2 separate regions of the Homo sapiens genome follow, and region 1 is linked to region 2. A link means that fine-mapping ties the variant in region 2 to the expression of a gene that starts in the linked region. Tissue or cell type: prefrontal cortex. Region 2 holds a variant in brackets; the other region holds the start of a gene. All regions are shown on one strand. Distances are between the middles of the regions.

Region 1 (8,344 bases), 170 kb after region 2:
AAAAAAATTGTGAAGGCTTTTTAAAGGAAAATCCCCCTCCAGTTCACTGTTTTATTGAACGAGGACTTTTTGAGTTCCTCTTATGTCAGCCAGTGTGTTGGTTGCTTTCACACAGATTTGCTCATGAAACTAATTTACTGCCTAGCATACTCTTTCATTAAAATATCACATAAACGTTTTTAACAAGTTTAAGTTTTTGGCAAGCAACTTATTTGATGACAGAGGCTCTATGCTGTTAGGCCACGGTAAACTGTTAAATATATTAAATGAGCACTTTCATAGCAGTTTACTCATTCCTTTATTCCCTGACTCAGCAAATATTTATTGAAGCCAAACGTTAAGAGCCAGGAAGTATTTTTGACATTAGAACTTTCAAAGTGATTGAAACAAGCAGAGAGGGGCACTTAGCCAGGTTGCAGATAATTACTTTCAGGATGGTTTTCTACAGTAGGTGATGCCTAGGGTGGGGGAGTGTTGGAAGTGGTCTAGGAGGATGGAAGAGTAAAAGGAAGGTATGAAAAGAGGAAACAGCAAGGGGCCAGCCTTTTGCATTCCAGTATAGTGTTAGTCATAGGCTTCAGGGCTCTCCTTGAGAGCATAGGTACTTAACTTTCAGAGAGCTTACTCCTGTCAGCTGAGGGCAATTCTTTGGAGAAGGGGAGCTACTGGAAGCCTTTTGCAGCCAACACTCACAGAAGCTGGGGGTGGTGCATTGGCCCAGTACAAGGTATCTGAGTGGTGCACCAAAACAGCGTTGGCCAACCACAAGAGTGACTGGGAGATGAATAATAAATATATCAATGGTCACTCCTCTTTGACAAAGCTTGAATAGGGATGTTTCCCCAGCAACATCCTTAGCCCTGTGCTCACAACTGTTATTTCTCTCTAAGCAAAGTCCACTCTCCTCTGCTGCAACTCAGCACCACCTTCTGATGTCCTCATGACTCCCTCACCCATGCATCCAGCCAGGCTTTCTCCAAATAAATGTTTGTTGAATGGATAAATATACTAGGAATTCTCTGACTGAAGAAGGAGAAAACATAATTACAGGCACAGAAAAGAGTTGTTCGAAGGCATGTTCAAAAGCTAGGACAATGAATTTATGTCATAGTGGAAGTTCAGGTCTGTTCAGAATGAAAAACAAGTGAAAATGTGCTGGTTGTATCTGATAATAATGCTAAACACATTTTTTTTCCTAAATCAAAACAGTTATTTTTGTTCAGCTCAAAATAGACTCCCAAGAATACTCCCCTCCTTACCCATTGTTTCCAAGAGAGAAAATCTGACATATTTAATCAATGGACTGAAAATGAAGTTTCCCTCTTCTCTCCCAGGCAGTGGGCTGCTGCTCTTTCTGGATATTGGGGCAAGAGACAAGTCAGGCTTGGAAGGGTGTCCTAATATTTGCAAATGTCCATTTTTCTGTCCAAGCACAGAGAAGGTAAAGAGCCAAGAGGAAATGGTTAAGAGGGCTATCTTGGCAAGCCTTTTACTCCAGAAAGAGGAAAGAATCTTCAGAAAAAGGACAAAAGTGCAAAAAGATTTCTCTGAAAAAAAAAAAAAAAAGAAAAAAGGGCAATCCAGCTTAAAAAACTTTGATGATAAGGAACTCTCTAGGGATAGATAGCTAGCAAAAAACATTCGACTGAGCTTCAGAAACAAGTTCTCTGGAAACTGAAGGACAAAACACTGGCTGGACATTCCTGGCAGTGAGCTACGGATGGCATAACATAGCAACTACATCTCCTTAGCCATTTGTTCTAGTTTGCTCTACATTAACAATTCACAACAAGAAGAGTGGAAAGTGTTAAGGAGCTACCATTTAGTGCCTCTGACACCTCAGCTACTATGCAAGTTGTTTCCTGTAGCCTACTTCATTTGATCCTCAGACTGACTTGCTATCTTCTTTGTAAAAATGAGGAAACGAGAGCTCAGAGATTCAATAATTTGCCCAGCTTCATATATTTATTGAGTGGCATGTGCTCTCATCTATGCTTAAATGTAATTATGTGTACTTAAAGGCAAATATCGTTCTCCATTTTCCACATATCCAAGATTTTAGGGATGATAGGGTTTCTCTGAGTTATGGTTGGTAATAAAAAAGAAACTTTTTCGTATTAGAGTAGTTTGAGGATAGAGCAATTATCATGTAAGGTATACTGCTCAGAGTCTATGCCCACCTCATTCAGGCCACTCTAACAATAAACACAGGCCTTTTGGCCTGGCGGGCTAGATAGTCCCTGTGACAGCCAGACTCCTCATTTGGTTATCTGTGGAGTAGGAGGGAAATTAAATATACATCTGCATCTTTTCCAACAACAAATCTTAAGAGATTATTGCTAGTTATAGCAGCAATGGTTTCTGGTATAGAAGAATAAATAGAAAACAATGTTTGGTGTATTTGAATAATTAGTTCTATCCTTTTTTCTGAAAGCTTTGAGAGTTACTTGATTTGTTTTTTATTCTTTTGACTTGAAATTGAGAGGCATATTTCTACTTTTTTGATTCTTAAACATTTAAGATTCTTCTACCTTTTATGACATAGAGGTTTAATATAATTACCTAATCATATATTTACCTGTTTAAGGTACTTCAACAGCTGTTGATGTGATGGTTTCTGTGAATTGGTAGAAAGATTTTGGACCAGTAGTAATAACTTCTCAAAAACCCTCTGTCTTAGTTTGGGCTGCTATAACAAAAATGCCTTAGACTGGGTAATTTATCAATGACAGAAATTTATTTCCTGTATTTTTGGAGGATGGGGAGTCCAAGGTCAAGGCACCAGCAGATTCAGTGTCTGGTGAGGACTTGCTGTGCTTCAGAGATGGTGCCTACTTGCTGCATCCTCACATGGCAGAAGGGGCAAATGCTGTGTCTTCACATGGTGAAAAGGACAAACATGCTCCCTTCACCTTCTTTTATATGGGCACAAATCTCATTCATGAGGCCCTCATGATTTAATAATTTCCCCAAAGATCCCACCTCTTAACACTATTGCATTAAGGGTTCAGTTTCAACATATAAATTTGGAGGGACACAAACATTTAGACCATAGCAGCCTCCTTATTTTACTTAGGAGTATATCAAGCATACTCAGCAAGAGAAGCTGAAGAGGATGAGAGCCCTCTAGCTTAGACATCACAACACCTCTATGAGGCCATTTTTCCACTCATTGCTCCTTTGCAGGCGATCCTTATGATCTGGGCATCCCTCCCCTTGAGCTGACTGTGGCTGTCGGAGGACGTATTGATAGTGGCTTCTCCTGGACCACAGCATGACTGCACAGGTTTCTCCAAGACTCTCGCCAGGGAGATCCAGAGGAGCAAGTTTGGTCTCAGGGTGCCACCAGCAGGATGTGTGGCCACCAGAGCCTGCGTTTGTGATTGGGGCTTATTATCCTATAGTGGCCCCGCAGTTTCTTTCAGGGGAGAGCCTGCTTGGCCCGTGTCTCTCCCTGAGTGCTATACTTACCTCTCATCAGCTCATTTATTTTCCAAATCTTCTCTGAGGTGCTGTTATCTTACCTAGGGATTGAAAAAAAAACTTACTTAGGGAGAAAAAAGTTATATTAATTCTGGAAATAAAAGCATTTTAAACTTCAGGCTTAAAAATTATAATTTGCTGCATATTTGAAAGTAAAACACATACAACATCTAAATGTAAATATATTTGGTATGACTTTAATGTTATCCTTCACCAATATTCTGTATGTAATTCTGAATATTTAGGTTGCCAGTGCTAGCCTTTCCCCATTTCCCTGGGTGAGATAATTATCATGGGAACTGGAAGAAATATTATACATGGCTCTTTTCTCTGAAGACAAACTTCTTATCTTGGCATAATCAGCTCGTGTTGATCGGACCCCTACCTCACTGTTTTTATAATAGTCTCTGTTTTATGATATAGCCAATGACTCCCAGGCTGTCTCTGTTTTCTGGCTCTCATCTCACCACTCCTCACTAGTCTGGTTCAACCTTCAGGACTCAACTTTGATAATTCCTCTCCCATGACTATATGATATATCCTACTCTTTTATTTGTTTGTTTGTTTGTTTGTTTTGAGACAGGGTCTTGCTTTGTTGCCCAGACTGTAGTACAGTGGCTTGATCATGGCTCACTGCAGCCTCAACCTCCCAAGCTCAAGCAGTCCTCCCACCTCAGTTTTCTGAGTAGCTGGGACCACAGGCATGTGCCACCACCCCTGGCTAATGGTTTTCTTTTTTGTTTTTTTGTAGAGACAGGGTCTCTTCATATTACCCAGGATGGTCTTGAACTCCTGGGTTCCAGCGATCTTCCTACCTCAGCCTCCCAAAGTGCTGGGATTATATGTGTGAACCCTTTCCAGCACACATCCCACTCTTAATTCCTCATTAGGTGCTTCTAGTGTACGTTACTCTCCATTGTGACACCCCTGGTGGTAGTTCTTAGGCATTATGACTTGTCAGGCACAAGTAAGAAAAAGTCAGCACTCTGGTACCAGGTACTCACAAGCTACTTTTGTTGTTGCTGTTGTTCTGGCTTATTCCCATTCCCTAATCACAAGGCTCCTCCTCAGAATGCCATCTTACCTTGCTAAATGACGGCAGAGATTGATTTCTAGCATTGTCATGTCACTTGCATGAGTTGTACTTGTTATGCGTTTCCTAGGCTCAATGTACTACTAGTTCTGTTACATCTGTTTAGGTATTTGTTTGCATGTGTACTGTTCATTGGGGCTGCACTCAGCATTGATGCTGAGTACGCTAAAGATAGTAACTTAGTTCTAGGCTTATATTGTTGATTGTCCTGATAGATGTATTGGTATGCAATTGGCTGGTTATAAAGACATTCAGAGATGTAACTATGAGCCTTTGACTACTACAAGGATGAAGAACATAATGGAGATATAATGCTCTGTAAACTTAAGAATGGTTTGTACATTTCTAAGTTGGTTAATGCAGTCTTTCATTGGCTTATTCAACAATCACTGGGCACATTAGATGTACCGAGCCTCTTTTAAGAGGGAGAATGAAAGTTAAATTAATAGTTTCTTTCCTCAAATATCTGGGAGCCTAATGGAGGAGGAGGAGGACATTAAGTTATTTCAGTAAGGTGGAGAGGCTTGATTCTCATTTTACTATCTATTCTAACACTTGTAGAAAGCATGCTTGCTCTTCAGATTTAGGCTTCCTGAAATGTAGGGAGGGCATGCTATTGGAGAATTCAGGAACTAGCAATACTTAGAACAGGCATTCAGGAAAGAGATTTCAGTTTAGGTTGGAGAAAGGGATTGAAAAGACTTGCCAGTTCCCAGAATTAGAAAGACCAGATTACCAGTGTATTAGTAAGCTATTAATTGAGGCAGAGACAACAAGGCAGAGGTTTACATAGACAACCTATGCCCAAATAGTCGGGCCAAAGGCAGGAGAAACTTGTTGCTGACATCATGTAGTATTTGACAGATTATAACCCGTCACCTGTATCTTTACTTATAAGCTGTCATAATTTAGAACTCTTGCAAAATAATTTCTTAATACATTCTTAATACATTTTCACCTTAAATTTTTTTTTGAGTTTTACTATCGTTTTCAAGTAGCAGCAGCAATTATTGTAATATTTACTCAGTGCTTAATCTTGGGATGAGTCCCCTTGGGGACTTATATGGCTTAATATAGTCAAAATTACACTTTTGTTACCATGAGTGAGTAAAGACATTATCTTTAAGGAAGCAACATCATGTAATCTGTTAATACACTGCTCTTATTCAATTTATAAGACCACTGTATACAATCAGGAGACATCTACCACTACTTCATAGGTATCGCAAGACAGAAACGGACAACGAAATCTGAGGGGTCCATAGCTTTATGCTAGTCATGCTAGATTCACTGAGATTTTGGCAGGGCAATTGATTGATTGATTAATTGATCCACTCTTTCCTCAATTATTTATTGAATGTCAGATATGGACATTATGTCAGGAATATGGCTTATTTTTATTCAAAAGAAGGAAAATGTATATTCATTAGTCTAATTTTTATCTAATAATTCCATGAAGAACAAGGTAAGTTACAGTGAAAATGACTTATTAGGATTTTAGAGAAATTTGGGGGGTTGGGGGTGAATGGAAATGTGAGAAAAAGGGAGAACAGCATACCAAAAGGGTATTATGGTCTCATTTGACTGAATACTTATAACAGTTCCACAATTGTAGAATTATGAAATATTTATGGGTACCTATTATGTGCAAATCACTATATTAGGTACAGAAAGCACAAAAACAGATTTTTTTTTTTTTTTACCGTCAGGAAGGTTTACCTCTAGTGAATTGCATTAAACATACATAAATAAATATAACATGAGATGAAGTTTGTCAGGTGTCTAGGAGATATTTGAAAGAGTACATTTTCAGCTCTTTGGGTATTTGGAGGCCCAATGGAGATGTCATTTGCACTGGTCCTTAATTACTGGATAAGTTTGGGATCCACAGATATAGAAAGAAAGAGAATTACAAGTGAAAGGAGCTGTAAGCAAAACCATAAAGACAATAAATTAAAGGACATGCACAGAACACAATTTGTTCCACTTGGCTAGAGTCGAGGGAAATAAAGTTCGAAATTCAAACTGGGGTCATCTTTAATGCCAGGCTGAAGAATTTGACCTTTATTTAATAGGCAATGAAAAATGTTGCTTATCAATGTCAACACGTAATTCGTGGCTGGATTACGCAGCAGGATTTTATCAATCTATGTCATCATGACCTCTGAAATCCAACCTTTGGTCAGGAGCATATATTGATGTCTAAGAACTTTAGGATTAACTTCCCCAGGGAAATTTATAGCACAGCTTTAGATTTGATTCTTTAGAGAATTTTTATTTGAGGCAATATAAAAGTCTGATGTGTGTTGACTACAAGTTTTAAAATAAATGGTGGAATGCTTTTGGTTTGCCAATTTCTGAAAAGTAAAATAATGACATATTAAGTAATGGAAATGTGGGAATTAAAACTTTCACAGAAAGAGCAAACAAACTCATCATTTCTTTCCTTATCTCTGTTTCTGTGTCAGGCCCCCTTCCTGGCTCATGTCTTGTCCTCCAAGATGTCCTCAGTTGCCTCTATTTCAGTTCTTTTTTCTTTCCATGAGGGGTGAGACACCATTTTAGAACTTAGTAAGCCACGCTTGGCCTCAGTGTCCGAAAATAATTGGAGTAATTTCATTTTGTTTCTTCTAGAGGGGGATCCAGAAGGTTCAGAAGTTGACCTGTTCTTTACTTACCTTTCTGTAGACTTTACCTTGTTCCAAGTCCTGCTGGGATGATAGCCTTTAATGTATTTATCACTGTGTGGTGCTCCAATAATCCACCAATTCTGCAAATTTTTGTCCTTGAATTTAGGATGCTTTTACATTTTTTCTCGGAAAACAGTTTTACCAGCTGGCAGTCTGAGTTAACTAAGTTCCATATATAAATTTATGCAGGAAGGAGAGGGAGAAGAAAATATGCAGGAATGAAAACAAATATTTGAATGCAGTGTAATAGCTCAAAGCGCGAATCCAAGATAGGTCAAGTTAGAGTGATTTTTAAAAAGATCTTCAAATTTCAGAATACTTTATGATATTCTCTGCCAAAAACTCTGGGTTTTCATCAGTGTCTTTCACCATTTTATGGCTCTTAGTGGTGTTTTGTGGTCCATAAATTTAATATATTGTCCATGCTACCTATCGTATACCCTGAGATAAATTCCCAGACCACATTGGCACACTGAGAGCAGCACATTAAATGCCTCTCCCTGATTTTTCATGCCCTTTCCATCCATCAAGCAAGCCTATACAAAATACCTTTTATGTGTTAACATGCTAGATACTCTATGGCACCACTTTTCAGAATTTATTGTGATAAAAATGAACTGGAGGTATATTATGATGCAGATTCTGAAGTCTGGGTTGGGACCTGAAGGTCTGCATTTCTAATATGCTCACAGCTATGTTGGTAGAGGGACCACACTTTGGGTGGCAGGGCTCTTTGGGATTATCTTTAATAAAGAACTCATAATATAATGGGGTCATTAGGCACATCAAAAGCAAATATAAGGCAATCTGAATACAGTGATACACATATTTCATTGAGAATAGAAAGGAAGAAAGGATTCATTTTGTGGAGAGTAGGAGAAATTCAGAAAGGTTTCATAGAAGAGGAAACTTATTAAACTGGGTCTAGGAAGATGTGAAGGATCTGAGCAGGCATGGAAGATTTTCCAGATGGAAGGACTACATGTCAGAATCCATGGGCTCCGTAGACCCAAGTGGCTGGGACTTAGGGTGTACATGGAAAAGAGGTTGGAGATAGGACTGAAAAGGGAGCCAGCTT
Region 2 (8,344 bases):
TACTGATTAGTTTCTGGCTCTGAACCTTCCAAATCTTGATTCTCCTCCATTTCAACACAATTCTGGTGTCAGTTGCTCTATTACAATACAACTTCTGACCCTGCAACTTCATGTCATGTCGCCAATTTTACTAAAACATATGTCTATGTGAACACATTGCCAGGGCCACTTCCAGGGCCTCAGCTAGTAGACTCCTTTATGGGAGGGCCCCTGAAGCTTAAGCTTCCTTAGCTTAATGGAAAATCTAATACTGAACAGCAGGAACAGAAACTGGCCTGCAGGGAGTAAAGGAGGGCCCAGTGGATAGGCAATGAAGTTCCTGCAGGGGCCTGAGGAGTTAATCCAGGAAGAAATGAGCTATGGAATGGTGGTTATGAAGAGTGGTAGGGTCCTAAGAAAAGGTTCTATTTGTGGAGTTGACCTGTTATGTTTGGGGACATGAATATACAGAGAAAGAGAGAGAGAATGAGAGAGAGGAGGAGAAGGAAGATAAACAGGTGGAGGAGAAAGAGGAGAAGAGAAGACAAAAAGGAAGAGAATTAGAATAGCAGTGTTAAAATGTTCAGTCACAGACCCTGGGCTTTTTGCTTTCTCTTCCCACTTTCTTGGAGTTGGTCTACATTCCTGAAGGCTTTGTCCTTGTATTGGGAGAGGGTATTCTCTATCCTCTTGGGCTTTCCCTACAGAACATCTTCTGCCAGCACTTGGATGTCAGTCTGCATCTGAGGCCACTGCCAATGCTTTGTCCCACTTTGGCCTTTGGGCGTTGCACCCTTACCCTCTTCATTTTTCTGCTCTTAGCCATAAATCTGTCCCACATTTCTCTTGTAAAAACCTCTGAGACAGCAAGGAAAGGATTAGAGGATAGGCACAGGAGCATGCTGAGTTAAAAATGGGGTACATAATAAGCTTAAGCAGATTATCCTAATATAGATACTTTCCCGGGAAAGCAGAACATTAATGCTCTGCTCTCTAAAGCCTATTAAATAAACATACATATTATTTAATGACCCTGATTTTTGCCATTGTAAGTTTTAACACATAAATTCTTTATCAAAATTAATCATGAAAGACTGCATTGTAAATAGATTTTCTTTGGCTATTGAGGAGCTAGGTCTTTTAAGAGATTTTGGAACCTGTTGCCTAAAAATAACAACACAATTCAAAGTGCCCACATTTGGCTGTGTTCATATGCTGCCAAAAAAATTCGGAAGAAAAGTGAAAAGTTCACCCATTCATTTGGATATTTCCAAGTATCCAGATGTTTGGCATCATCCAGACTAAATGTTAGGTGACTAATTGATTGGGTTGCTCATGTTCCACATGTTTGGCATTGTATGGATAGATTCTGATTATGCTCTCAGACAGGGAAGTACAATGTGTTTTACATGCTCACATGGGACCCCAAAGCTAATGGTGTCAAATGAATTTTTCCTGTTTGACCCCCATGGGTCAAACTCAGTTCAGTTTCACTTGTATTTTTCATTCCTACAAAAATGCAGGTGCAGCTATTTTATTGCCATTAAATCTCATAAAGCACTGAAAGATTTGAATGAGAAAAACAATTCTGTTCCAGCAGAAAGCATTTCATCCTAAGGAATAAAATTTTCCTCTCTTTATTCCAGCAAATGAACAATAAAAAGTATATGAAATCATAGTATCACTGAGTCTTAGAATAAACATCAAAACTTGAATAATTTTTTTAAAAAGATGGAACTAAGAGATGGAATTTTATAAAAACAAACTTTCAGTTAGATGGTATCTAAACAAACTTTATTATTTTAACACATAAAGATTTAAAAGAGTTAAGAATATGGCTAGGTGATTTTAACTATATATAGTGACTCCTTGAGTTCTGTTTGCCTAGAGTTAATTTTTTGTCAAGTACTTCCTGGCTGGGCTGGGCTACTTATTTTTTATTGATTGTGTGTTCTAAGTGGAGCTATAATAGAAAACTAAGAAAATAGATCAATTTAGGGACCAGAGAGCTACCACAGAAGAGCTATTCGCATTAATTTAAGAGACTTGGGCCTGTGAGCATTTCCTTCAATACATCTAATGACTTAATTCAACAAATATTGTCTGAGCTGTTTTCATTTGAAGAGCCTATTTTCCTTAGTGCCTTGGGACATGTAGAGTTGAACAGGGTAAAAATCGTTCATTCCAGCTGATGGTAAGTTAGAGACTATTGGGCAGAAGCAAGCAATTTTATAAAAATACACTGTAGGGAAGAAATGGTACCTACCAAATAGACATTAATGATCAACTGTCAATACTTCAAGACATTGAGACCTGTAGGAGTTACTAACATATTCTTTAGAAAAATGAATAGAAATTAGGAATAATTTAAGGAACTTAATCCTTCTTGCTTCTGTTTGACACAGAAACCACTAAGAAGAGGGTAAAACAAAAATTGGGAATGAGAATCCTAGAATTTTTTTTATACTTGAATGATTTCAAAAGATATGCCAGCATTTAAACAAGCCTTTAAGAATCTAGTAGATTAGAAAGCATTTGAGTGATGAAGTGACAAGGACGTAAGTTGAAATCAATACAAATACAAAACCTGATGAATTGTTTCATTCAGAAGAGATCAAATTATTAAAAGATCAAGTGCAAAGGGAAAAGTTTATAGATATTAATGTGTTCTGATAAACTAAGAACCAGACAGTACATGAAAGCTTAGCTTTAGGGTGGATGACATTGCAAGTGATATGTAATTAAGGCAATAAGTTACGGCAAATGAGTAAATAACATTTCTAAGATTGATCCTCAGTTGTGGGCTGAAACAAATTGATGTAGCACAGTAAGCATGACTTCAAGAATATTTTAGGATAGGTGTGGTGGCTTATGCCTATAATCCCAGCACTTTGGGAGGCCATGGTAGAAGGATTGCTTGAGCCTAGGAATTTGAGACCAGCCTTAGGAACATAGGGAGACCCCATATGTATTAAAAAAATAAAAAAATAAATTAGCGGGATGTGGTATTGTGCACTTGTGGTCCCAGCTACTCAGAAGGGTGATATATGAGGATTGCTGCTTGAGCCCGGGAGTTCTAGGCTGCGGTGAGCTATGATTACACCACTGCACTCCAGCTTGGGTGACAGAGCGAGACCCTGTCT[CA/C]AAAAAAAAAACAAAAATAGTATTTTAACAGAGGTGCTACACAATATGCTGGAATGTGTCCAAAGTGGATCAAAGGATTCTTGCTGCAGGAAAGTGCATTCTGCTATGGAAAGTTTTAATAAAGCAGAGGTTGTTCCTCTGCTTTATTAAACTGTCTAATAAGCACACATCTAATTTAATAGAAATAAGTGTAAGACATATGTAGCTTTGGAGAGAAACTGTCTAATTTAATAGAAATAAGTAAGACATAGGTAGAGAAACTAAACATATGTAGAAATTGGAATATCAACCTTAAAATGGTTACTACCACAATTACAAGAAAGCAATTCAGTAATTGTAATAGTAATCAAAACTTCTGTGTATTGTAGTCATTTATGCAAATAGAGTTGGCTGTATATAAGCACAAATCAATACAAATGACTACATGATGGCGGGATTTATTTAGTAGAGGCCAAATTACTGAAATATCTAGCATAAAGGGAAAAAATCCATAAATACGTATGTACCTGCTATATCAAGAGAAATGCTATGAAACAACTAAAGGAAATGTGGAGGAAATATTTAGTTCTAATATGTTTAACAATACCATCCCAAGAGAGAATAAATGAAGGTGCTGCTGGTGCCTGAGTGGGATTTTAAAGGACAAATCTGGGTTTCCAGAAGGAAAGAGAAAAGACATGGAGACTTTTATCAACAAAACAGGTTTGGGTGAGGCATGCTAGAACCCCAAAGTGTGGAATGATTAGTCAAAGTAGAAAAAACTGGCACTCATAGTTGGCAGACAGTCCAAAATACAGTGCCAATAGGGGAGTGTCAAATTCCGGGTTAATTTAAGCTACTTCAATTCATGGTGACTTGATAAGTTGTAGCATTATAGCAGAGGGATCCAGGCTGCAGTAAAATTCAAAGTCAGTGGGGAACAGGGTCATATTTTAGTGGTTTGCTTGGTTTTCTGTAAGACCCTAAGCAACAGCAATTGAAATAAGAACAATGTGCAACCCTAAGGGAGGAGCAATTGGAAGGGGCTAGGAAGGCTGGCTGGCAAAAGCCCAATGAAGCAAGTTTGTTTTCAAGGAATAGTGTGGAAACTGAAAAACATATGGTTGTCCCTGCGTCCATCTAGACACCCTGAATGCTGGTTTTATAACAGCATACTACATTTTGTGCACACTTCCAGATGGAGCCCCTAATATGCTGTCTTGGCAGGATGCCTTTGAGTTGGGCCTGGATGTGATTGTATATGCTAAGAGTATTGCTAGAGATAAGAATAACTCCGTCAGACAAAGACTGAGGGGGAATGGACAGTCATGCCATATTTAGGGAAAGGGATATTAATTTCATATTCAAACCTAAATACCTGCCTACTGTCATCTTAAATTGTAAGTATCTTCCAAGATACTTACAATTTAAGATATCACCTTTTAAATTTAATTGTAAATAAGTATCTTAAATTTAAAACATCTAAACTTAAGCTGTCGGCCAGGCATGGTGGCTCATGCCTGTAATCCTAGCACTTTGGGAGGCCAAGGCGGGTAGATTGCTTGAGCTCAGGAGTTCGAGACCAGCCTGGGCAACATGGTGAAAGCCCACCTCTACTAAAATACAACAAGTTAGCTGGGCGTGGTAGCGTGCTCCTGTAGTCCCAGTTACTTGGGAGGCTGAGGCAGGAGAATTGCTTAAACCCGGGAGACGGAGGTTGCAGTGAGCTGAGATAGCACCACTTGCACTCCAGCCTGGGTGACAGAGCGAGACTCCTCTCCAAAAATAAATAAATAAAAATAAAAAAAAATAAACCTAAGCCGTGCTATTCTGCCTGAAACTAGTTCCTCCCTATCTTTATTTCAGGTAGGCGCACCCACTTGCTCAAGCCAGAAGTTTAGGAGTCATTCTTGATACACCTGCTTCCCTTACCCCTTTCATGCAATCTCTCGCCAAGCCTTATAAATTTTACCTACAAAGTACTGCTGGTCTCCCTTCCCTTCCACCTCCACTGCCCCACAGAGTTCAAGCCACCAAGTTCTCTGGACTAGATGATAGCCTGATAGGTTCTCCACTTCTCCTTCTCATCTTTCCCCAACACAGTCTCCATCGAGCAGCTTGATCATTTAAAATTGTAAGTCTGGTCAAATTACTCATCTGCTTAAAATAACCTCAAGCCTCCAATTGCTCTTAGCATAGCATTAAAATTCCCCACTATGGCTTCTGATGCTCTGCTGTTCTGCAAGATCTGGCCCTGGCTCCCTCTCCAAACTGCTTGTCAGTCACTCTTCCCTGCTTCAGGCACACTGATAATTTTCAGTTCTTTAATCACACCAAGTTTTTTTTTTTTTTTAATCAATTTAGGGCCACTTAATCTGGAATTTTTCATCATACTTCTAGGCCAAAAGAGAGACCTAGCAGTGTTATTTATTAAATAGTTATGAGCAGAGAACTTGGTATTTATTTGTCCTAACAACTTATTAGCTATTTTTAAAAAACACATAAATTGAAGAACATTTTAATTTCATTCTTAACTAATCACATTTATTAATATGATGTCTGCATCCCTTGCTTATAGCGCAGACTCTCAAACTTTGGAATCAGATTGGATACTGCCATACTCATTTTCTGTTCCACATTGTTTCTTTTCAGAGGGACGTGCTTTTTATCAGAGCAAAATATGCTTAAATCATGCTTAAAATATGCTTTGCAAAGATATGACTTCATAAAAAAATGTAGTGTGATCTAGCTCACCTTGTATCCAAAGGATATTGAGTATCTCTGGATTTCTCTCTGAAAAATTTAAGACATCTCAAAGCACCCCAGGGAGTTCACTGCAGGGCCCCAGGGTTCCTTGGAACACAGTTTGGGAACCATAGCTTTGGAGGGTTTTAGGGAAACGTGATCTGATTTGAGTTAGATTTTAACAGATTTACTTTGGCTTTGTGGAGAAAAAAACTGAAGAGGACGAAGGTAGATGTGTGAAGATCAGTTAACAGGCTACCACAGTAATTGAGAGCCAATGGTGAGAGCTAATGGTGGCCTAGACTGGAGTGGTAATAGTTGGGCAATGAGAAGGAGTGCTGCATAGATATGTTGAAGATAGAGCTTGCAAGATTCGCTGATAGATTGGATTACAGTTGTGGAGGACAGATCAAGGATAACTCTGAATTTATTGGTTTGATAACTGGAAGGATAGACTAACAATTTTAATAGGGGTAGGGGAAAAATAGGAACAGTTTTTACATGTTAAATTTGAAGGCGCTGATTAGATATCCAAGTAAAAACGTTAAATAGGAAGCCAGGGTCTGGTGTGCAGGTGAGAGTTCTGATCTAGAGATACGTACATTTGTGAATCATCACTATGTATTTGCAGGCAGGAGACTGAGTGACATCTCCAAGGGAGTTGGCTATAGAGAGGAGATATTCAAGACAAATGACAGCAGATTTATGCACTGCTGGGAGAGACTCAGATAGAGGGGAATAGATGCTGCTGCTGAAAGGGAAGAATTACTCAATAAGGAATCACGGACTCTAATCCATAGCCCTAGTTAAGGGCTGGCATTAGGAACACAGACAGCTTATACATAGGAATAGGGAAAAGAGTAGAGGATATGGGGATTAATGAAGGTAGGTATTTATATATGAAGATTATCAAAGTTCTCTTTTTATTGTTTCTGTCTTCTCAGTGAAATAGAAGCAAAGCCATCAGCTGAGAGGGACAGCAGTAGAGAAGGAGTTGGAAGTTTGAGGAGAAAGGAGAAGGGATAGAATAGCTGTCTTAGAGAGTGGAAGATCAAATGGAATAGGTTAATCATATCATTGGCGAGCATCATTGCTTACTGGAGCTTAGTGATCATGAGTCATGAATTAAAGTGAGAACACTTAGCATGGTTAAATGGTTTCTGAGCCAGGTTCAGCTTCCCTGGTTCAAGTGTGGAACAGATAAGCAGCTAGATTTAACCACTGTGACATAAGTTCAAAGTGTGATGAAGAAAGAGAGGGCAAGGGGTTTGAGGGCTTATTTGAGAGAGAGAGTATAATGATTGATCCTAGATTTTAAGTGGGTAAGTTCAGTGAAGATATGAGAGGCAAGAGTCAATGAACAGGCAGTGCAATCAGTAGGGCCTGGAGGGTTCCAAGGATGGTTACAATAAAGCTGCTAGGTTCACTGCAGCACAGAGAGTAGGTTCTTGGAATTGAGATTATACAGAGGTTGTAATTATTGGAAATTACAAGGTGGAGGTACCTATGGAGTGAATAGCCAAAGCAGGGTGTTAAACAAGATAGTGGGAGGAGGGGAGGTCAAGGAACTGTAGAACCCGGGGGCTGGACTGATCATTTACATTCACCAGTATTTGCTTTTATGATCTCTGGCATTCTGAGTTGTTCTTAGGCCCTATACACACACATACCGTAAAATAATTTTTCTATGTTTTCTTCTGTTACTTTGAGAGTTTCATTTTTTTATATTTAATTATTTCATCTCTTGGACAATTTTCTTAGAACATGATTTGAGATATTGATATAACCTGATTTTTTTTTTCAGATGCATACCTAGTTGTCTTAAAATCATCTGTTGAATAGTTTATCTTTTTACCACTGGTTTGTGATAATGTTTTGTCATAAATTAAAATTACATAATTATTTGGGCCTACCTGTGGACTTACTGTTCTATTTTTTTTTGGTCTGTTATTTACATACAAGCACCATACTCTTTAAATTACGGTGGTGTTTTAATATGTTTCAGTATTTGTTGGGCTAATTCATCTTCATTACTCTTCTTTTTCAGTGGTTTCTCACCTATATGTATATTTTTCCATATACTTTGGAATCTGCTTATCTATAAAAAACTATTAGTATTTTTAATTGTTGTATTTCATATATACATTAAGTAAAAATAATAAAAACATCTTTGTGATTTGGAGACTTTCTCTTCAAGACCTGTCCATCTGTGCCCCTTAAAGGTGCATTATTCCATTGATTTAATAAATTTCTTGCTACATTTATTATTTACATATATATGTAAATGACCCCATACACACACACACACACACACACACACACACACACACACACACACACATGAATGTGTATATATACACACACACATATATAGGTTGCTAATTGCTAATGGGGTCTTTTATCCCATTATATCTTTTAATTTGTTGACTTTTGTGTATGTGAAAACCACTGATTCCTATATAACTTTTTACCCTGCTAATTTACTCAATTCTCTTAT

Direction of the effects. Positions count from the first base shown, and alleles are read on the strand shown. Sizes are in standard deviations (SD) of each study's normalised expression.
For the expression in prefrontal cortex of the gene that starts at base 4,354 in region 1, allele C in region 2 goes with a lower level than allele CA (small effect, 0.34 SD a copy in CommonMind).

The links. PIP is the estimated chance that this variant, and not a neighbour inherited with it, causes the effect. A credible set is the group of variants that fine-mapping cannot tell apart.
Region 1: it holds the start of LINC03071, and the variant in region 2 is the best candidate, but not a certain one, in a credible set for the expression of LINC03071 in prefrontal cortex (CommonMind, PIP 0.79).

The regions. Positions count from the first base shown.
Region 1 is chr8:74,628,979-74,637,322 of GRCh38, forward strand. LINC03071 (long intergenic non-protein coding RNA 3071) reads right to left here and starts at 4,354. Exons shown (of 7, transcript NR_183468.1): 1 at 4,257-4,354; 2 at 3,472-3,524. All of the region lies in intron 2 of MIR2052HG (MIR2052 host gene), which reads left to right.
Region 2 is chr8:74,460,338-74,468,681 of GRCh38, forward strand. It overlaps a transcript of GDAP1 not described here. Among named protein-coding and RNA genes, the nearest start is that of MIR5681A, 84 kb to the right of the region's middle. The variant CA/C (reference allele first, on the strand shown) is at 3,123.